2 separate regions of the Homo sapiens genome follow, and region 2 is linked to region 1. The links come from fine-mapping of genetic effects on gene expression. A gene starts in region 1. The other region holds a variant in brackets. All regions are shown on one strand. Distances are between the middles of the regions.

Region 1 (11,321 bases):
TAATCTATCTTGGAAATATAAATATTCTAATCTTTGTTAAAAATAGCAACAAAAGTTATCCATTTAGGTTACATTAACTCATATTTAATCCATAGGAACTGATATGACCAAAACATTCACAGAACTTCAACTCCTTTTCAGCTCTTAGTAGCTAAACTTGCTATTTTTAATGCTTTATCGAAATCTATCAATTTGAAAAGTTTTTAGCTAGGCATTTTTGCAAATAATCTTGAAGAACCATTTTTTTGTAACGATGCATTTTATTTGCAAAATATATTACCTTAAAAATAATTGCACTTATTTTTTACATAAATCTTTTCTGCAGAAAAGCAGACAGACATCAAATGCGCATCTCTCCCTTCAAGACTCAAAATCAGATATGGTGAAACAGTAAGAGGCAAAAGTGCTACAGTCTTTGAAGAAACTTTTGTAAAAATAGCACCTTATGTGAAACTAAATTCCTCCATTTCCAAAGCTATCTTTCATTCTTAATCTAAGTAACCCTTAATCTATGTTCTTAAATATCAGCATTGGGCAAGCGGTATGGATTGTTAAAATGAAAACAGATTTCTTTTAGGTAGGTACAAGTATGTTTAACCTACATCTTAGAATTCCACCTACAACTGTCAATAAACTGAGTGTTATTTGAATATTCACAAAAGTGAGGTCAAATAAATATTTTGATAGAAAATAAAGCAATAACATTTTATTACTATGGTTTGTAGATTTCTAGTTACCTCTTGACCTTCATGACATCTCAATCTCAATTCACATATTCTTATATTAAGATACTAAAACGCTATTTTAAATTTAATGAAACACAGAAAGCTTCAATAATGATCAAATAAAGATTAACCCTAAGTAAACCTTAGTTTTAAAGCTCTCTTCTAGCTCATTTCAAAAAAGGAAACACCCAGAAGCCTGGTGTTAATGTTTCTGCTGATTGTGAAAATTGCAGCAGTAAAAACCCCAACTGTTTGTCTTAAATTTAGACTTGTATTACTGCATGTGAGATCTGTATATTTACATTAGTTTTTATAACATTTGGAAGTTTTGTTGCCTGCTTTGATGTTAGTCCATTAATAAAGCAGACAGTCAAAAGCCTGGAAAAAATTATACTTATTGGAAATTCTCAAGTCAAAACTTGAAGTAATTGGTTTGTTCTACCCCACATGATTCAATATTCTGATTTCCCCAACTACCTGCTCCCAGAGCTATCTCCATTTCTAAATTCGTTTTCTGTTGCCAACACATAGTAACCCAGTGATTGAAAATGGCAGCTGAAGTTCTTCTACAACACATTAATTTTTCCCTAAGTAGTCCAATTTTGTCATCTAAATGTTGAAAAATCTTCTTTTCACTACATTTTGCACCTTTAGAGATTTACTGAATTCAAGATCACCCTCACATAAAGTGAAGAGCAATGTTTTCAAGACAATTTTTAGATTATCACTAATAGCTGTAAAGGATAATGTTGTTTTCTTTATAACACTCTGCATTCAAAGCAGACTAGTTAACAGCAACTTAAGTGCAATAATAGCAATTACATCAATGTGGCCTTTTTTTTTTTTTTTAACCACTAAAGTACTTCCTAGACAAGTGAAGGGATCAGATAAATAAACTACCATAAAATAATTTCAGGGTAAGGATATAATGATATACAATCTCAATGGCACAGAAAAAAAAACCCTAATTGTAATCCAAAAAAAAAGGATCATCCGATTACACTTAAGCTAAAAATGTTAGGCAATTAATGATAGTTTTTCCCCTCTGAAATTGTTATATTGGAATTCATTTTCATTAATAAAATAAAAGCAAGGAGTTTGAACATTAGTAAATGAAAGGTTATCAATTCATATTCAAAAGCAACCAAACATCTAAGGTAAAACTATAAAAAATATGAGCTTACATCTCCAAAAAAGTCTCCCCTGAAATTCATTTCCATCTTAGAATTAAGTTTTGTAAATTCTTAAGTCAAATAAATAAAACTAATTCTTCCCAAGAAATTGAAGATAAAAGTTCCCCCTTGACCCATCTGCACTTGATAACTAACCCAAATGACCCAAGCACTTGTTCTTTTTTTCATTCATGGATATTGAATTGTTAAAAGAAATTCAAAGATATGTTCTCTCTGTAAACATAAAAAAGCAAGAACAAATAAACTATATTTTTTAAAATAAACCAACTGAATACTAGAGTTTACTGTTTGACAAGATACAAAAATTTTGAAACAAAACAATATTTAAACAGAATTATCTATTTAAATAGAATTCACAAAAATTTGAATCTTCACTTAAAAAAAACTTTTCCAAGCTTCTTTTTGCAACAGAAGTTGTGTCAAGTTCATTTGAGGTTTTAATTTTCAGCATCCTCCGCTGACTTTTTCCCTATTTATTTAGCACATAAAAAACAGTTACCTACGTGTACAAATGAGTCTTTTAATCACAAAATTTCTATTGTTTTAGAGACTAATTAAAAACTAATTAAGTGGCCTTTTCATTTTACTAATAAAACAAAGTGTAGTTCCTAAAAAAGCATTAAGTTAGAAGGAAAGGCTTTCTCACTCTCTCTTACACTGAAGGGACCCCAAAAGACAGGCAACAGTGACTATCATAAAACAAAAGGTCACTCTTTTTCTAGGAACAAACCATTTATCAATAGAAAATAATTGTCTTGCCATTTGCAAGGGCTCCACAGCAATAGACAATGTTTTTGGCCCACATAACTACAAAACAGTAAAAGTTCAGAAACACAGCCTGAATCCACCTCCCTATTTTTACCCTTTACAATTCTCATTGCCCTTTGGGCCTCCGCTTGGAAGCAAAAGGAAGACAGGCTGAAGTTTTCTCAATTGAGCTAAAGCTAAGAAACCTTTGATATGCTAATAGTCCCCTTCAAACGGTAAGAATTCACACTTGCATTAATTCAAACAATTTGTGCAGAATGATGTGAAATGGCACCTCTTTTAGAGGCAAACAACAAAAGGAGAGAATCGGAATGTCTGAAGAAACTAAACAACAGAACATTTGTTCTGTAGTATTCTTTCTATTATGCATAAATTTATGGAAGGGTGGAGGGAGAGACAACAAAACGTTCCATAACACACCTGGACAGAAGTAAATTTTCTTTTAAAGGGTTTCTCAAGTATTACGAAGATACAAAATTTAAAGTTACAAAGTACCCTTAGTTAGGTCAAAACAGTCCCATCACAAGTTGGAATGTTGCCACAGATGAGTACCAAAACTATTCTATTTTTCTGCTCTGGATGCATATTGCCTCTTTAGTGCCTATTTTCTAAGGTTTGCCCAAGATCAAACCTGACTTAGCAAGAGACAACCTAACAGGTAATTATTTACCAAAGGATGTGACTTTCTTCATTGTGCAACTTCGTTGAGCAAAGAGCAAACTCGGTGGGACCCGTTCCACACATAAATAGTGACAGAGAAATGAATGAATCAACTACGTCCGTTAAATCTATGCCTCTGGAAAGGGGAAGAGAAGTGCACGTACTGAAAGAATGCAGAATAAAATCAAAGAATTGAGGGCGGGGTGGGGAAGAGAGTGCCTTAGAACCTGGCCTTTGTAACGGGAACCATATGGTTGGTAGCTGCAGCTCAGACGCTCCCAGGCTGCTTGGGAGAAGCTGCTAAGCAGCCTGACACCTTTCAAGAAACAGGAGGAAAACATTCCCTCGGTCGGAATCTGAGACAACAGTTTGTATCGGGAAGAACGGAATGGAGGGCGGGGAGAGGGAGAAAAGATGAGGAGGAGGAGTCCCTAAAAAGAGAAAGGCTATGATAGATACCGCAGGACTTGTCCCTCCCAACTATTCTTTGAGAGCACAGAGTGAACAGAGGATTGGAGGGGGGGAAAAAAAGCCTCCACTCAGCGACACTTTAGCATTAAGTAAAGCTTCCAGTATTCTCCCCTCACCCCCACCCCGCAGTCTGGCGAAAGGAACAAACTTTACGGGTCCCAAGCGCAGAAGTCTCGCAGGCGCACCTCCACACTGCTGGGGCGCTTCCATGGTTTGGCTCGCCCTCGCCCCCTCTGCCTGAGGGTCGCCCCAGCCAATCAAGGAGCCCACGCTCGGGCAGCGCGGGGGTCTCCCCTTCCCTCGCGCTCCTCCCACGCCTTTCTCTCGTCGCCACTCCCCAGTGGCACCCCCATCCCACAAACCAAGCTCCCGAGGCTCCCTGCCCCACAGCCACTCCAGCAGCATACACTCCGTAACTTCTCCCGCAGGCCCAACGCGGCCCGCTGCTGCCCTCTCACTGCGGCTCCGGGAGGCTCTCTGCCCTCCCCGTGGCCCGCCGGGTCCCCGGCCCCTGCACCCTCCCGACCCACGAGGCCGCCCTGGCAGCAGCAGCCCCGCCGCTCCCAATCGTAGCCAGTCCCGGCGGCGGCCCGACCACATCTGGCTGCGCTTTACTGTCATCCTCGCCTCCCCACACCACCTAACCACTGACGAGAAGGAACAGCAACCCTCAAAAACTCGTCCAAGCCCTCCCCCACCGTCCACTTCCCCCGAACTCGCTCCAGCCGCTCAGCCTCCCCGCTCCACTTACAGTGCGGGACCGGAGGGCAAAGCGGGCGGGACGCTGGGGTGGCCCCGGGCCCCAGCGCCCGGAGCAAATAAGCTCCGCCGAGGACGCGCTTCACACTCCTCCTCCCCAGGCCCCCAGTGAAAGGACGGGCGGAACCTTGCGACCCCAAGCTTTTATGAAATTAAAAAATGCATGGCTACGGGAGCCTCATCCTAACCCCCTTGCCAGCGCCCCCGGCAACTAGACTGATGCCTGGAGAGCGTTACAATGGCTCCACGAGAAAAGGAGAAGCCGGCTGGACCGGACTGAGAGTTCTGCGGATCGATTTCCAAGAGGAGATTGGGGGGAGGGAGCGAGCAGCCCGAGCGAGCGCGGGTCTCCCCCTGGGCCAGCCGAACAGCAACAGCCGAGCCCCATTAACCCGCGGCTCCCTGCGCCTCCAGCATCCACCCCCGGACTGGAGGCGCAAAGCAAACAGGTCTCCGAAGCTGGGCACAGAGGCACATTGTTCGCTCCTGCGGCTCTTACCTCCGTCTGCGAGCGCGCCCCGAGGGAGGGCCGTCTGGCGTGGGGGCCGCGCGGGGACAGGCGCGGAGGGCAGCGGCTACCCCGGCCGGAGAGGGCCGAGGCCGGCCGCGAGCGGGTCCTCGGCCGCCGAGTCCGCGCGGGAGGCAGCGCCGCAGCTCCCCGGCCGGACACGGCGCCGCAGCTCGGCGCGTCCTCCTGCTCGGCCGCCGCCGCCTCCAGCCGAGCAGCCAGCGCCGGGCGGCTCCTGGGGTTAAGTCAACATTTTCCCGCAGTTTCCCACACGCCGCTCTTCGAGAGAGGTCTTTCACACACACGCACACACCCCCAGACCGCACGCTCCCTTAGGAAAAAAAAATCGGGAATCAGAGCGAAAGGGGTGGTGGAAGCAAAAGCCTGACAGAGGTGCGCAGACTTGGGAGTCCCTTCGAAGCGACGGGCGGGAGGGCGCCGGGGGCGCGAGGCCAACTCAGTTTGTCAGGCGAAGCCCCTCAGCCCCCCGAGCGCCCGGCCGGAATAGCATCCCTCGCGCCGACCCTGCGGCCTGGGGCGGGAGGCGGCGGCGACCCCTCCTCACATTTCGGATCTCCCGGCCGGGGCTGAGCGGTGGCCGCTGCCCCAAGGAAGGCTGGCGGCGCAGACTCGGGCTCGGGGAAGCAAGGAGTAGCCGGGAAGAGCCACGCCACACACAGCAGCGGAGGGGAGATGCCCCCCAACAATCCCAAGGAATTCTCTGGTAAGCTCCCGATTTCGCCCCAGCACCTCTGCGTGTGTGTGAGCGGAGAGAGAGTGAGAGGGAGCGAGAGGGAGAGAGAGAGAGACGGGGGAATGCGAAGTCCTGACACAGACTCTCCGCGAGGTCTGAACTGGAGTCACCTCCAGCCTCCTCCTCCTCCTTCCCCCAAATCCGCCCTCCCCGCCAGTTGGGCTAATCATATAAACATACTAGCGTGTACAGCGTCAAAGGACAAATCTCTCCCTCCTGAGTTTTCCAGCAAGGGGCTCGGGCAAACTCAAAAGAAGATTACAGGCAGCTAAGTACAAAACGTGGAGCAGATAATCTATAACTCATTGTCGCCCAATGGCCGTTTTCCACTCCATTTGAGCAGCTGCTGCGGCTGTGCGCCCAAGCGGCGGGGAGGAGGAGCGAAAGGGGATACTTACGGGCTCGAGCCCTTCGGACGGCGGTGGCGGTGGCCAAGCAGCCGCCCGAGGACCAGGCCGGCCCCGGCTCCGCCGGCGGGGCGGCCGCAGGGCTGTCCGGGCGGCGGTGGCGGCGAGGGACGCGCGCGCACGGCCGTGGAACGCGCCCCGGAGGCGGCCTGCGCCAGCTCGCGCCCCTCCCCTTCTCTCCCCTCCCAGTCGGTTCGCGCTCCCCCTACCCCCAGGTCCCCGAGCTCTGCCTCCAGCTCCCCCCATTAACACACCCATTCAACCGCTAACCCCTAGCCCACCCCCAAACTCCACTCACTGCGCGCTGGGTCCTCCGCGCGCTCCGCCGGCGCGCGCTCTCCATCCTGTCCACACACATGCACTTTAAAAACATTTATTTTATTTCTGGAGTGGGTGAAGAGTATTTGGGAGAGCGCCGCGAAGCGCGGCGCTCCGAGGCTGAGCGCAGGGGGATGACCAGCGGCTCGGGGCCCCCTCCCCTCTAGGCCCAGGAGCTTGCTCCCGGCCTGGACTTCGGAGAGGCGCCCGGGATGCGTCTTTCACCCACCCCGTCTCCAGGTTTTCTCTTTTCTCCACGCACCGAGCCAGAGGCCCCGAAACTTTTAGTTTCCGTAGCCCTCCTTTTGTGTAACTGCATGGAGGAGAAAGAACGTCTGTTCGCCGCGGCTGCCTCCGTCCGGCTGCGGCGCGCGGGGGACGCTCCAGGGTTAATGCGTCTTTGATACCTGAGATTTCCGGCGCGCTCGTTAATGAAAGTTACATTTTTTTAAATTGCGATGATTTTTTTCTTTGTAGTTACGTAGAGCCAGCTAAACTTTGACTTTATTGACTATATTTCACAAGAGCGTTTTGTTTGTTTTTGATTAAACTCACCAGGATAAGCAAAGGAAGGAAAGGAGACTACAAGGCTCTTTACTCTCAAGTATAGTCACAGAGCTGTTAGGTCTGTTTCCCTCATTTCCTTACATTGAAACTGCCTTTGCTCTTGTCCTCTGAACACACTTCCTTGCCCCTCTCGGTTGGCAATGTCAGCAAACAGCCAGGCAGAGCCTACGATGGACCTAAGCTGAAAGGAACAGAGCAGGACAGGGCGAATCACGCTGGAAAAACGTTTAAAAGCCAGTTAAGTGTCCTGTGCATGCCACAAAATTCAAACATGGATTTTTTTTTTATTGCAAAATTTCTGAGCTGGAAGCAGCTATGTTTTCAGATGTATTTGTAAACCACTGATTCTACTAATGAATGCAGCCATCAATTAAATAAGCATATTTACCTTTTTTTCAAGAAAAAAATGATTCTCCAATATTTAAAACCTAGAAAGTAGGATAAAACTTAAGCTGCTTTGCTTTCAGAAACAATAGGTACTTTTTGGTGCTGCAGGAATGTTGCAAGCATCATACTTCAGGAATCATTCCAAACAATGTTATTAATATGTCAACAGCAGATTGTTCAAAATACATGAAGATCCTAAATACCTATCAGTATTTTGTCAGAAAGCCAGATAGGTGTAGTACTAAAGTAAATCCAATCCAACTACTGGTCAAGTTTGTTCTTGACTTGTAGGAAATCATAGGTTAAATGTACGTGTGTCCAAATAACTAGAACATGTTCTTTTGGTGGTTTCATTGTAATTCTCAGATTAAAAAAGAACCTTTGATAATCTAATTTCTTCTACCTGATGTATTGATGTTTTAATATTCTCACTATTTCAAAAGATAAAAGGAGCAACTTAGAGCATTGGTGCTTTAAACTACATACACACTTACATCTGGAATTTCTTACATAACATAATTCAAATATTAACCACGCAGGATATAAACTAGTCTGGATAAAGTACACTTATGCAGAGCTGGTGCAAAACCTTATAACGTACCTAAGTTTTTACATATGTCAAAATACATACATACAACAGATCTACCTAGCAAAATTAAATCAGGCTACTTCAAGTCGTTGAAAAGAAGGCAGAATTATCTAATTCTCAGACCTCAGAGGTAATTTTATGATCTTCTTAGGAATATAAAATTATTTCATTCAGGATTGCAAAAGAGAATAAGTCAAACTGATAGTAACTTGCATTTACCAAAATATTTTAGCCCTTCTTTGTTCATCTTTGAAGGTTTTCACTCATCTGGGCACCATTCACAAAAGCCCCAATGAGTGCATGCATCAGTCTAATCCTATTTTCTTTTGGGAAGCAAAACTTAGGCTGAAGTTTTTATTTAGTGAGCTTAGTAAGTAATCAATAGACATTTTTGCCTGAATTAAGCTGGCCATATGTTGGCTCATTTACTTATTTATTTAACTCTCTCAGAAATAATCTCTGGAAAAACCCATTATCTATCTGCATGATATATTTGACATTCTTTGATGCTCAGGACATAAGTGAATCACTCTTCACTGTATTCTTAAAGAGACAATATCACAAAAAAGGAGGATGCTTGGAAGGGGGAAGAATTTATCAAAAGTGAATTAAAATTATACAAACTAGAAAAATGCCCCATAGAAGTTTCAAATCTTATTTCAATAGGATGTGTATTCTATAGAGTTCAAAGAGTTCCACACTTTTCTCCTAAAAATATAATAGACTTGCTATGTTTTAAAATTACATTTAAGAATACTGCTTGTGTAAGACAATGTTTTAAATATTAAAGATTTTTAATTATTTCTTTATTCTTTAGAGGTAATACTTCAACCTTCTTTGTATATCCACAAAGAAGAATTGAAATAGTGTTTAATTATATTGCTAGATTCAAGATTAAGCTGTTAGCCACAAACCTGCCATTACAAAGGAACACTTAAAAGGCACACACCATAGAGTATATCTACATTCAAAAAACATAATTTACCTGGCACTCTCTGACAATTCATAACATAATTTATAACAATACAGGTGTTATGGTAGAAAAAAATGAAATGAGAAGCTTAATAATATCTACAGATGTGTGCAAGTTAAGGAGAGTTGGAGTATGTTACGCATTCCCTGCAATCCAATCAATTTAATTACTCAATCTATATTGTTATTTAAGTAATGGCAAAATCATTGACTTATTCATAATAGTTGCTAATTGTTTTTTAAAATAAATTCTACAAAGGACAAAGGAAACACCCATTTCCATTTGTTTTATGTTAAATCAACATATAACCACTCATGGTGATTTCATTCAAAGAAAACAGAAGGAACTCATTAGCTTATGTGGTTAGAGAGATTGATGGGCTTCAAACATTTTAACCATACATGTTTTTTCCAACTGTAGAAACTCATGTTTTTAATTTTAGTAACCTTAAGAAACTGAAGATTATTTTATTCAGTGGGTTCATATATTTCTGGTACAGACGTTATGCTAATTTTTAAACTGAGATTTATCATCTAAGTATCTTTGTTTATAGGGAAGTGATCAGGCACTTGTTAAAATATACATAAGAATAACAGCAGTTTGAGTAACAAAGAATCTGAAATAGTATGAAAATGGACATAGGTGCAGAATATTGTGATTAGTGTAAGCCAATAGAACACAGTATCACTTTCACTGCCCTACTCTGGCCAATGGCTATAGCTAAGACACTTCTAAAAGGGTCAGGGGTTGAAGGGAAGAGGTATTGAGGCTTGAGAGTAGGCCAAAAACTGCCATTAAGTTTGAGCAACACAGTTATAGAAAACTATTAAGGAGGGACGGTTGTATCTATTATGGGGAGTGTATTTTTGCCTGTGATTAGAGTTTGTGAAACTCTAATTTTGTTTCAAAAGAAACAAAATTTGTTTTCAAAAGAAAATTGTTTCAAAATTGTTTCAAAAGAAACAAAAAACACGTGGAATGACTCTCATTTCTAATTCAGAAATAGAAATAAAATTAGCTAGATTATATCCTAAACCTAACTCAGTTCCATTTTCTTCATCATTACTTGTTGATGATGCTTGGTGCTGAAACTAGTTTTTCCTACTCTAGAAAATAAACTACATTAAAGCTCTAGAGCAGATCAGAGCAATATATGAATGCCAAACTTAACTAGAACTTGTTGAAAGTTGCTAGCTTTGTTTTCAATTTTTGCCTTGCCATGCATGTAGGCTGAAAAGAAATCAAAACTCATTTTCCGTAAGAGCAAAAACATATGAAAGCATTTGGCAAAGCCAGTAAGGTTTTAGCTATTCTCCCTGCTCTATAGGCTTAGCAAATTTTGTCCAAGAAGGCCAAACCCTATCCAAAATGTAGAGATGCAGTCTCCAAAAGTAATGACAGTTTAAAGTATAATGTAAATATAATTAAGGCATATTGTGTTTAATGGTATAATTTAGAAGTATATAATCACGAATTATTAATAGCTGTCATTTGGTAATTAATACTTTTTAAAAAAAGCATCCACTAGTTCAACTGGTAACATGACTTTTTCTGTGCACCACACGTGTTAATTAATATATGCATAATTGTATATAAAGATTTAGGAAATTTTTATGTCGTTACCATTATGATACTCAAAAGTAAGCAAATTTAAAACGATATTCTTCATAATTATTGTTCCACTGAGTCTTAAACAACTCAAAGTTTTTCTTTCCCATAGATTGTTCCTATAACTCTCATTAATCTCTGCATCTTGAGAATTTTATATAGTTGGGTCTTATAGGTCTTTTATCAATGCTTCTGTCAGATCACAAAGTGTAAGCAAAAGAACACTAATTTTATACAAAGCTGTCTATAACTTCTAGTAATTTTGTCCATCATAAATACTCATAACCTTGTTTTCTCATTAACAGTACGTGGTTTAAAAAAACACCTCCTGCAGTGTGTGGTGGCTCACGCCTGTAATCCCAGCACTTTGGGAGGCTAAGGCAGGTGGATCCCAAGGTCAGGAGTTCAAGACCATCCTGGCCAAGATAGTGAAACCCCGTCTCTACCAAAAATACAAAAATTAGCTGGGCACGGTGGCAGGCGCCTATAATCCCATCTACTCGGGAGGCTGAGGCAGGAGAATTGCTTGAACCTGGGGGTCAGAGGTTGCAGTGAGCCGAGATAGTGCCACTGCACTCCAGCCAGGGCACTGGGCAACAGAGTGAGACTCCGTCTCAAAAAACAAAACAAAACA
Region 2 (11,321 bases), 92 kb after region 1:
CTTAACTTTATGTAAATCTACTGAGGAGTAAAAAAGAAAAAATTAGAGCAGAAAAAATGTCTGAACAAAGCAGGTTAAAAACTGGGAGGAGAGAACTCTTGCATCAAAGAAAAAGAAACAAAAGAAATTATAAGCTATTCTTCTTTTACTGGAAAGAAATTAAGGACTTACACCTATGATACATTGAGTAGAAGCAACTACAAAAGAAAAGGAAAAAAAAAAACAAAACATGCCCAAACCTGTACTTGAATCAATGTGGAGTGACTACCTGCCACAATTATATAAAACTGTCTCAAGTTATTGTTACAGGATTATTTCTGAAATAGGAGCTATTCAAGTATGTAGCACACTTCTCAAAATTCTCTCCCCTTGATCAGTAAGTTATAATATTTCAGCACATAGTAAGTACCACATTCATTAATTTCTAATACTGAATCAGGGTTTTCTAAATCTTCTTTATCCCCTTTAGAGTTTTGTGCCTGACTTCTATTATATTGTGTATAAAAATGTATCAAAAATGATGCATGTTTTTTACTCTATAAATTGCTAGGTAAAAATTATTTCTTGAGTATTAAGCATACATATATGCCTTCTCCCTGCCCTGCCCCATACTATAAAAGATTGCTTGAGGTGAAATGATTAGTCAGTATTTTAAAATAAAGAAATACCTTGATGCATGTATTTTTAAGAAGTTTGATACCACTCAGCCTCTATCTTTGCCTAATAGTGAGGTAACAATTTATTCCTTATTTTCTGAGGCAATCTTAATTTATATCTCTTGCTCTGGCACAATTATTAATAGTATCCACTTTTACTTTCAAAAGTATCCAAATTTAAATGATAACTTATATAGGTATCTGATATGGTTTGGCTGTGTTTCCACCCAAATCTCATCTTGAATTGTAGCTCCCATAATCCCCACATGTCATGGGAGGGACCTGGTGGGAGGTAATGGAATCATCAGAGGAGGCTTATAACATGCTGTTCTCGTGATAGTGAATAAGTCTCATGAGATCTGATGGTTTTATAAAGGGCAGTTCCCCTGCACACACCCTCTTGCCTGCTGCCATGTAAGAAACGCTTTTTCTCCTCCTTCACCTTCTGCCATGATTGTGAGGCCTCCCCAGCCATGTGGAACTGTGAGACCATTAAACCTTTTTTTCTTTATAAATTCCCCAGTCTCCGGTATGTCTTTATTAGCAGTGTGAGAACAGATTAATACAGTATCTCTACCTAATATCAAGGCAGCATGGCATGGAATGATCTAGGGCTTTTGAGACAAGCCCCTCAGGGTCTTTGCATATTTCCATCATTTACTTACTGTATAAACTTGGGCGATTACTTATCCACTCTGAGACCAATTTTTCATCAGCAGCATATGGATAATAATAGCTCACAGACTTGTTGAGATAACACAAATGCATAGTATTATGTCTGGGTACATACACAAATGGGGACAATAAGATCAACTTACAAGATTGCTGTGCAGTTTACTTAAGATGATGAATTTATGCAGAGTGCTCAGCACATGGTCGATACTCAAAAAATATCATTTTCATCACACTCATTCTCATCATCATCACTATCATTGGCCATTAGTGGCTGTTGGTAAATATTAGAGTTAATCGTTTCTTCCCTTCTAACCTTACCTCTTCTGGTACATGCTGATGTCACATCTGTGAAACATGCTTAGAAATGTGTATTATACCCACAACAATCAGGAATTAGGAGCAATTTTAGACTGCTTGGCATACTAACTGAACAGCATTTGGTCTAGTTACTGGGCAAAACACACTGGTTTGTCTGACATAAAAATGCACGTCTCAGAGTGTATCTCAAAAGTTCCCTCAATGCAGAGGACTATGAACTCTGACTCTTGGATGCTCCAGGAAGATCCTAGGTCCTTCCCTCTCAAGATGGAATGCCTTGGAAGTCTCCATCTTCAAATGATTTTCATTCCATTTCATTATATATCGGGGTTTTTTAATTTAAAAAATATTATAAGAATCCACTCTCAAGCCGGGCATGGTGGCTCACACCTGTAATCCCAGCACTTTGGGAGGCCAAGATGGGCGGATCACCTGAGGTCAGGAGTTTGAGACCAGCCTGGCCAACATGGTGAAATGCTGTCCCTATTTACAAAAAATTAGCTGGGCGTGGTGGTGCATGCCTGCAGTCCAGCTACACAGGAGGCTGAGGCAGGAGAATCACTTGAACCCGGGAGGTGGAGGCTGCAGTGAGCTGAGATCATGCCACTGCACTCCAGCCTGGGCAGCAGAGCTAAACTCTGTCTCAAAAAAAAAAAAAAAAAAAAAAAAATCCGCGATCCAGGTAAATTGGTGCTCCAGCATGATAGGCAGTGTGTTTTCTGAGGCTTATCTTACACCTAATATAACTCTGCCTGTTCCTAGTTATATATATCCCAGTTGGAGAAAGAACAGGGATTTCCCAGTTAGACACAGCTGGCTTAGAAGCCAGTTCTGCACACTGTGTGCTTTTGTAACCTTTGGCATATTACTTAATGTCTCTGATCCTCAGTGTCTCGGTCTTAAATATGGGGATATTATGATACCCATTAAATTGTTTGATAATTAAATGTAATCATATCTGTAAGGTCACCAAGTCATATGTTAGGAATTCAATCCATGTCAATAATTTCACCTTTTTTCAGTGTTAGTTAAAATAGTTCAATGACATCATGTCAGGTCACATCGATGAAGACCGATTTGAATTTATTTCTATTGGGACTCAGAGCCCAAAAGTACTTGAAAGATGACATCTGGCTTACCACATACAAATGTCTATGCAATACAACATGGAATCTCATGCAACCATCCAGGTCCTTCCTTCCAAATTCCCATAGTAACTCAACCTTTAGTGGTAATTGTCTATTAATGGCCTTACTTGACTGGGCATATATTTTTTTAATCCAGTTGCCATATAGAAACCATATGGTTGAGATGTCTTTACACTTTACAAAGCATTGGTAAAATGAAAACAGAAATCATAGTCCCAGGCACAGGATTCGATTAGCCAAAGACTTCCTTCTCTACTTGGCGGACACTTGGGTGTCCTTCAGGATCACACTCAGATATATTCTCCTTTAGAGTGCTCTGAAAATATTTTTTTGCTTTCCTCTATCATTGTACTTATTACAAACCACTGAAAATTCATGTTCATTAATCTATCTTCTCCCTTAACCTTTGAATCTCTAGAGTAGGTTCCCAAAGTGAAGTCAGCAGATCCTCTGGGGTCCCTGGACCCTTTCAGGGGGATTTGTAAAGTGAAATCTATTTTCAAAATCATATTAAGACATTATTTGCCTTTTTCACTCTGTTGACATTTGCAATGATGATAGAAAGCACTGGTGTATAAAACTGCTAACATCTTAGCATAAATTAAAACTGTGGCACCAAACCATATGTAGCACTATAGTCATATTCTTAACCACCTCACACTTGCAATAAAACAAAAACAAAAACAACACAAAACAAACAACAAACAAAAAAATACCAATTTTAAGTATGTCTTTTTAAAAACAATCATTGCTAATTTTAAGAAATCTAAATCTCTGAATATACATCTTTAATATTCTATATGACAAAATGGATGCATGCAAAAAGCACTTTCACAGACTACCGAAGTCTGACCGTCTTGAGGAAAAGCACTTATGAGATAAATGTTTGAGTTGTAACCTGACATAGCTGCTCTCTTCATGAAATACCATTTTTACTTTAAAAAGCAACTGACAGACAAACGATGGTTATTCAGATTTAGGTGCTGTGCAGATATTTTTTAAACAATGAATGAAAGCAAGCCAAATCACTTCAAGGAAAACAATCAACAGTACTTATTGCCAATGATAAAATTCAAACATGCGGACAAGAATTGTAACCTGAAGAACAATTTGTATCTGTCACTGTGAACTTGACAGCTTCGTAATATGTAAAGACTTTTCTGATAAGCTTGGTGGTGATATTAACAGTGGTGATTCCTTTTAAAATGTTTCATGAAATATGCTGACATATGGGAAATCTACATAACTCAGTGAAACAATACTTTCCAAATGACCAATGCATGATGTTACAAAATCATGCATGTAGTATATTGGTTAAAGATCTATCCAAAATGTAAGATTAACCAATGTATTTTAATGCAGCAGATTTTTAAATGTTCATTGATATGGTTTCAGATTCCACCTTGCAACTAACCTTTAATAAACTATTTGTCAAAGTTTTATTCAATATCAAAGAAGAATAGCACATTTATCTGAGAAGGCTAGTAAAATATTCTTCCTTTTTTTGCATCTAGTATCTGTGCAAGGCTGATTTTCTTCATAAATTTTGAATTAACAAATATTTTTAAATTTCTCATTTTAATTTCTAACGTGGTAAATACTGAGAGATGTAACTCACAAAAAATAAAAGTTCTTTTTTTTTTTTTTTTTTAATTTTTTGAGCAGAGTCTCTCTCTGTCACCCAGGCTGGAGTGCAGTGGTGTGATCTCAGCTCACTACAACCTCCACTTGCCAGATTCAAGTGATTTTCATGCCTCAGCCTCCCGAGTAGCTGGGACTACAGGTGTGTGCCACCATACCTAGCTGATTTTTTGTATTTTTAGTACAGATGAGGTTTCACCATGTTGGCCAGGCTGGTCTCGAACTCCTGGCCTCAAGTGATCTGCCCGCCTCCCAAAGTGCTGTGATTATAGGCATGAGCCACCATGCCTCACAAGAGTTCTTAGAATCCTCAATAATTTTTGAGAGTAGAAATGGGTTATTAGCTCAAAAAGTTTGAGAAACACTGCTATAGAAAGGCAGCACTGTTCATCTTTCTGTCCAGAGTACCTGAGACTCGTGAGGTGCTTCATATGGGTTTATTTAACAGATGGATGAGTGATGAGTAAGTGAATATTGCCTATAATGCCAGAAGAATCTGACACGTTAGAAAATATCTTGATATGCAATATGTGATAAATAAATTAAATTGCAATTTAATATTTCCCCCTAGCTTTGTTTCTTGCCTTGTAACGCCTATTTCCAAAACAGATAAGGAGACACACCACAGGTGATTAGTTGTTCAGCCATGATTAATCAACTAATTAAATCAAGTTGAGTTGGTGAGGGGGACGGGGAAACAGTTATTTCTCTATAAGTCCCTTCTCTGATAGCCAAACAATTGACTTTACTTCTTTCATTATTAATGTATACATTTTACAAGAATTTGTTTGGAATAGGATAGTTTTTAACATGTTTCGAAAATTTTTTTAAAGCTTGGTTGACCATTTTTTAATATTGTTTTATAATGATATTTTAAGGCATACTTAGTACCCACCTCAAAATTTCAAATGCCTCTTAATAGTGTGGAGAAGAGAGATGGATGGGCAGAAAAACTGGGAACTGAGGAAACAGTGAGTAGGGAAATCAAGTGTCAGCTAGGTCAA[C/A]CCATAGCCTAAGGACTCACAGAAACAAGAATAAAGTTTAAATTAAAAAAAAAATAAACTCCAAACACTAAGGTTTTTTTTGTTTTGTTTTTTGTGTTTACTTTTTATACTACTATTCTGCTTCCTTCAAGCCAAAGTCATCTCTTTTAAAAGAGAAAATATCTTCTTGATAACTCTGTACATGGGAAACAGCAGAAGCAATTTGGAATCCATGGTACATTTTTTTAGTCTCACTGAATAGAGGAGATAGTCTCTTGCAGGAAAGGAGCACCATTCAGTTGGCTGATGTAGTTAACATACTATACCCAAGAGCTAAAGCTCTCTAATTATTCCATAAAGCCTATTTTATCCATTGTAAAATGGATCTTGTCTCCCATTAGGTTGGTGCAAAAGTAATTTCGGCTTTTGCAGTACTTTAATGGCAAATACCACAATTACTTTTATACCACCCTAATGACTTCTCTGAAATAAGGATAACTTGTTCAATCAGTAGTATATCATCGTTTCATTGGCAGAGTTTTAGTTTTTCTTTTTAGAATATAAAATAAGGGTACATCTTACCATTGACAGCATCTTAGATTCGATGAACTATAGTAACCTAGGAAGAAAATGTTTGATTCTATAGTTATATGGTGAGACCATATTCAGAAGTGTGGTCTCTAATACCTTGTCTGTTTTCCTTTCCTGTCTCCTTGGAAAATAATGGACCCATCTAACGAGCAAGTAAGTTGATGTGTTTCAAGGCAAGGTAAGCAAGTTTGAGTAGCACTATTTGATCCCTAAGAACTTTAGAGTTTGGTAGAAAGCTTATACAAGCCCAAAGCAAAAAATAAAGGAAATTGTTTAGCTGAAGTATATAAATAAAATGTGATCACATAACAGAGATTTCTATAGAAGGAGTCCATCCTAATTTTTATGCTTCAAAATATTAAACATTTCCTCAGCTTACAATTTAGGATATATATATGTGTGTGTGTATATATATATATATATGTAAATTTTAATGCAAACAATAGTATATGTAATTACCCTTTGCATTACCCTTCTCTTCTGAAGTGCCAAGGAAAATGTGTGCAGAAACATTTATGCCTACATCATTATATGTGCATTGGCTAAACAATCAAAAGTACTTCTGCAGATGCGTGTAGGAAAATTAAGAGCATTCCCACTTCCTCATTCAGTCAAGACAGTCATGCTGTTCTGGCAACAGATATGCATAATGGAAACAATATTGCTTTAAATAATCAAAATACACAAAGGCACATTTTTCTGAGTGATTGGAAATAACCCTGACAAATGCTTAAATTTGGTAAATTATGAGCTAGCCAAGTTATGTTTGCATAAATATAATGAAAAGCATTTTTAAAAAATTTAGTAAGCATGTGAAGCACGGCATTCTCTTGGTAATGATTTCTTTGACGGATAAACCAACAACCGTGCAAGGCAAGTTTATGAAGGTGCCTCCTTGAGTGCTTTAGAATGTGTGTGTATGTGTGCATGTGTTTGTGTATATGTACACAAATATATGCACAAAAATAAAAAGTTTGCAAAAATTAGGTAAGTGGCAGAGATATTCTTACAACTAAAAAGAAAGAGAGAACAAGCGTAGGCATTTAAAATAGCTACTTATATTTGAAAAGAAGAACACAAGCTAAGTGCAATTGAATGCTTTGTTAATGTGGTACATGGATAATTCATATTCCCCATACAGAACTCTTGGATAACACAGAGATTACCTATTAGGTAAAAACATAATTATATTCTCTTCCAGCAAGCTAGATATCACACCTCAGCTGCACTCTTAAAGGGGTATCTGCATGTAGTTGAAGAGGAGCTGTGGGTGGCTAATAAAAAAGTATTCGAATAGGGCAAAAATAATATTCTACTCACAGGTAATATGGTGGTATTTGTTATCAGATTGGTTTGGGTAGAACCGAGCACTGAGCATCCAACATGTGGATGCAACAACAACAACAACAACAACAATAACATACATTCAAGCAAAAGCCGAGGAAAGATATACCTTCATTTAGGATTGTCCAGATTATCATGGCTTTTAAACTAAGCCTAATAAGGTAGGGAGACTGACCACTGAATTTGCTACATGGATAGCAAAGCTTTTGTGAGAATTCTATAGCTTTTAAAAGTCACCAGAAGCCAAGGAACACACTTTTACGTGAAAGGATTATCATCAAGGCCTTTTCCTATGGGCAGGCCACACAAAACAAGAAATTTTCACATTCTCCTATGAGGATAGACTGTATTCAAAGAGATAAAATAGGCCATGAACAGTGGGTGGAGTGGAGATGACATTCTTAGGGGAAAATTCCTTTAATTCCTAAGCATGAATTGTAGGAAGAGCCTGATTGTGATTTATGGCCTTAGTCATCCTTTTTTTCCCCCTGATAATTGTACACTGTAATTTTTCTTTCTGATAATTAACCTTAGTCATCAAGTTTTTCCCCATTAACCGCCACCCACCTTCACTTGAGGATGGGAAGTAACAGCTTGAGAGAAACCAGGATTACAACAGGCCTCTGGTTGGGTAAAATAGCGCGGCAGACCAAGTTAAATTTGTACTACTTTCCTCACCCTTTGAGGTAGTCCCTATTTCTTATCTTCTGTTCCTCCAATTTAGGGCTAAACCCCTAGAAAGCTTAATGCTTTGCTTTTGTTTCAATATTAAAATACATTAGAGCCATTTGGTAAGTCCTTATCACCCAGCTTATGACTTCTCTTCCTATGAAGAGAAATCTCTTCATGAAATTTCTCTCCTGAAAGTCATCCATGACTAAGTCATTGTGACAGCTAATGTTCTCATATTCCATCTTCCTTGTCTGTGTCTCCTCCTTGATGCCTGATCAGGCCTTGCTTCCAGAAACTCTCCACCCTTTCTTCCTTTCTTGGGACATTCTCAGTTTTCTTTTTAACTGTGTGACTGCAACTTCTGTCTCTTTCCTCTTTGCATTCTATGTGTATGTGATCTAAAAGTTTGTTCCTTAGCCCTTTTCTCACCTGTTCTCTCTTTTCGTTGACAATCTCACCTATCCTTTGGGTCTTGTCTGCAGAGGATGCCCACAGCTCTGCTGTTAGCCCTGCGTCTTCTCAGTGCTAAATACAGGTTTCCACCTGCACACTGCTCTTCTCTGGAAAGACAAGCTCTGGCACCTAAAACACTCATTACGTCCAAATTGGATTCGATATCTTCCCTCTCACATTTACATCCCCTCCTATGTTTCCTATTTTTTCAAAAATGTCATCACCAAGGTTTGAAACCTTAAAGTCAAGTATGACAGCTTTCCTGTCTCTCTGCAATAATATGCAAAACCCTGTCAATTTCTCCTCTAAGGTTTCTTGACCATTTATATCCTCTTTTCCATCCCTTTTTAAAAAAATTTTTTTATTTTTTTGTTTTTATTTTTATTATTATTTTTTGAAACGGAGTCTTGTTCTGTCACCAGGCTGGAGTGCAGTGACGTGATCCCCACTCACTGCAATCTCTACCTCCCTGGTTCAAGTGATTCTCCTGCCTCAGCCTCCCAAGTAGCTGGGACTACAGGCGTGCATGACCACGCCCAGCTAATTTTTGTATTTTTAGTAGAGACTATGTTGGCCAGGATGGTCTCGATCTCCTGACCTCGTGATCCGCCCGCCTTGGCCTCCCAAAGTGCTGGGATTACAGGCATGAGCCACCGCGCCTGGCCCCAAAATTTTTGTTTTTAAAGATAAGGTCTTGCTCTGTCTCTTAGGCTGGAGTGCATATAGCTCACATGATCACAGTTCACTGCAATCTCGAACTCCTGGGCTCAAGCGATCCTCCTGCTTCAGCCTCCTGAATATCTGAGACTACCACCATGTTTATCTAACCTTTTAAATTTTTTATAGCGGTGGAATCTTGCTGTTGCCTAGGCCAGTCTCAAACTCCTGGCCTCAAGCGATCCTCCCATTGCAGCCTCCCAAAGTGCTGGGATTATAGGTGTGAGCCACTGCGCCCAGCCCTTCACCTCTTTTCTATAGGCTGGCTTCCTGCTGTTCTTTCACAGGCTGACCTGGCTACAGGAATTTTGCCGTTTAAGAGCTGCTCCCAGCCGGGCGCATGGCTCACGCCTGTAATCCCAGCACTTTGGGAGGCAGAGATGGGCAGATCACCTGAGGTCAGGGGTTCGAGACCAGTCTGGCCAACATGGTGAAACCCCGTCTCCACTAAAAACACAAAAATTAGCCTGGCATGGTGATGCACACCTGTAGGCTTTTCTGCATCCAAACAACATTATACATTGCTGCCAGAAAAATAATACACAGGGCTGGGCGTGGTGGCTCATGCCTATAATCCCAGCACCTTAGGAGGCCAAGGCAGGTAGATCACAAGGTCAGGAGTTCAAGACCAGCCTGGCCAATACTAAAAATACAAAAATTAGTGGGGCATGGTGGCGGATGCCTGTAATCCCAGCTACTTGGGAGGATGAGGCAGAGAACTGCTTGAACCCGAGAGGTGGAGGTTGCAGTGAGCCGAGATTGCACCACTGCATTCCAGCCTGGGCGACAGAGCGGGACTCTGTCTCAATAAATAAATAAATAAATAAAATTAAAAGAAAACAACAACACTGTTTTGTTCATGTTTATGTGCATTCCCATATCTACATGCATTTGCTTCAGACATTTGCTTTGCCAGTATTTTTCTTTTTCTGCAGAAGTGTCTTTTTCTGCCATCATCCTCGTTTCCTCTCTTCAGTACCCCTATGTCATCCAGTATTTGAGTTTAACAGTTTTGTCTTTCCATTAGATGATGAATTCCTTAAGTAAAAGGCCTGATATGTTTATCTTCAAATCCCCTACATACACTCCAGTGCCTGACATAAAGTAGCTCCTCAAGATATCTTTGGTTTTGAATTAAGGTGAGTTTCATTCCTTTGTTTAAAAATCTTCAACATTCTCTATTTGCCACATGTTACAAACTGTTTTACCTGGTCAACAAGACCCTTAGACTTGGGATCTGGGAAAGGTGGGGAAGAGGAAAGCAGAGAAAGAGGACCAAAGAAGAAGGAAATTGGAAGCAGCAGCAAATGGCAGGCTGGAAGTATTCTGGGACCATTTTTGTGTTGTTCCTTTTCCTACTGATTACTATCTGGTCCTTGAAGGCCCAGACATCCACATACCACTACCACTAATCTCTCCAGGAATCTCAATGCTCAGCGCCCCTGTTAGACCATATCCAGGCCCGCCGCTCCCAGGGGATGCCCTGTGTCCACTGGCAGCCACTTAGTGACTGATGTGCTATGCTCTGTCTTGAGGCAGGAAAACCGGACTAGCCAGCTAAGCCTAAGAATGCACCTATCCTAAATGCTAATGGTAATTCCAGACGCATTAAGCAGACAGTCAGACTTTTAGGGCCTTCTCTTTTTGCCAAGTAATGCACAGGTATTAGATTTAACTGGTTTTTAGGAGATGGCTGCCCTGAATTTGGTGTTTCACCCAGGTGGTATGAGCCAACAGAAATCTGGGTTGTGTAAGAGGGGAAGTATGATGATGAAGGGAGGCCTAAGCATCCCCATACAGGCTTGTGTCATGTAGTTAAATAAATACATTTACTGTTACCAGCAAGGCCAAAGATGAGCAGGGGGAAGGGGTAGCTCCAGAGAGATGATGGGTTTTTCCTTAAAGACTAAGCTCTTTTGTGGCTTATTGGCCTCCTTTACTTCATATGCAGATATCTGCCCCACACTTCCTTCCTTAGTGTAGAATACAAGAGCACTAAACTAAAAATAAAACAAACAAACAAAAGAACCCATTACTTTTGGTGGGCTGATATTGGAAAATGTAAACTTAGAGACTGTTAGGTAATCCTAAGTCCAGACTCATTACTCATTTAACCTTGGCAC

Alleles and levels. Positions count from the first base shown, and alleles are read on the strand shown. Sizes are in standard deviations (SD) of each study's normalised expression.
In carriers of allele C in region 2, the expression in fibroblasts of the gene that starts at base 6,371 in region 1 tends to be lower than with A alone (small effect, 0.21 SD a copy in GTEx).

Evidence for each region.
Region 2: its variant is fine-mapped to the expression of ADGRL2 in fibroblasts (GTEx, PIP 0.98).

The regions. Positions count from the first base shown.
Region 1 is chr1:81,795,984-81,807,304 of GRCh38, reverse strand. It overlaps ADGRL2 (adhesion G protein-coupled receptor L2), which reads right to left and starts at 6,371. Exons shown (of 24, transcript NM_001366006.2): 1 at 6,237-6,371. RefSeq lists an enhancer at 2,605-3,247.
Region 2 is chr1:81,703,754-81,715,074 of GRCh38, reverse strand. It overlaps a transcript of ADGRL2 not described here. Among named protein-coding and RNA genes, the nearest start is that of ADGRL2, 92 kb to the left of the region's middle. The variant C/A (reference allele first, on the strand shown) is at 5,443.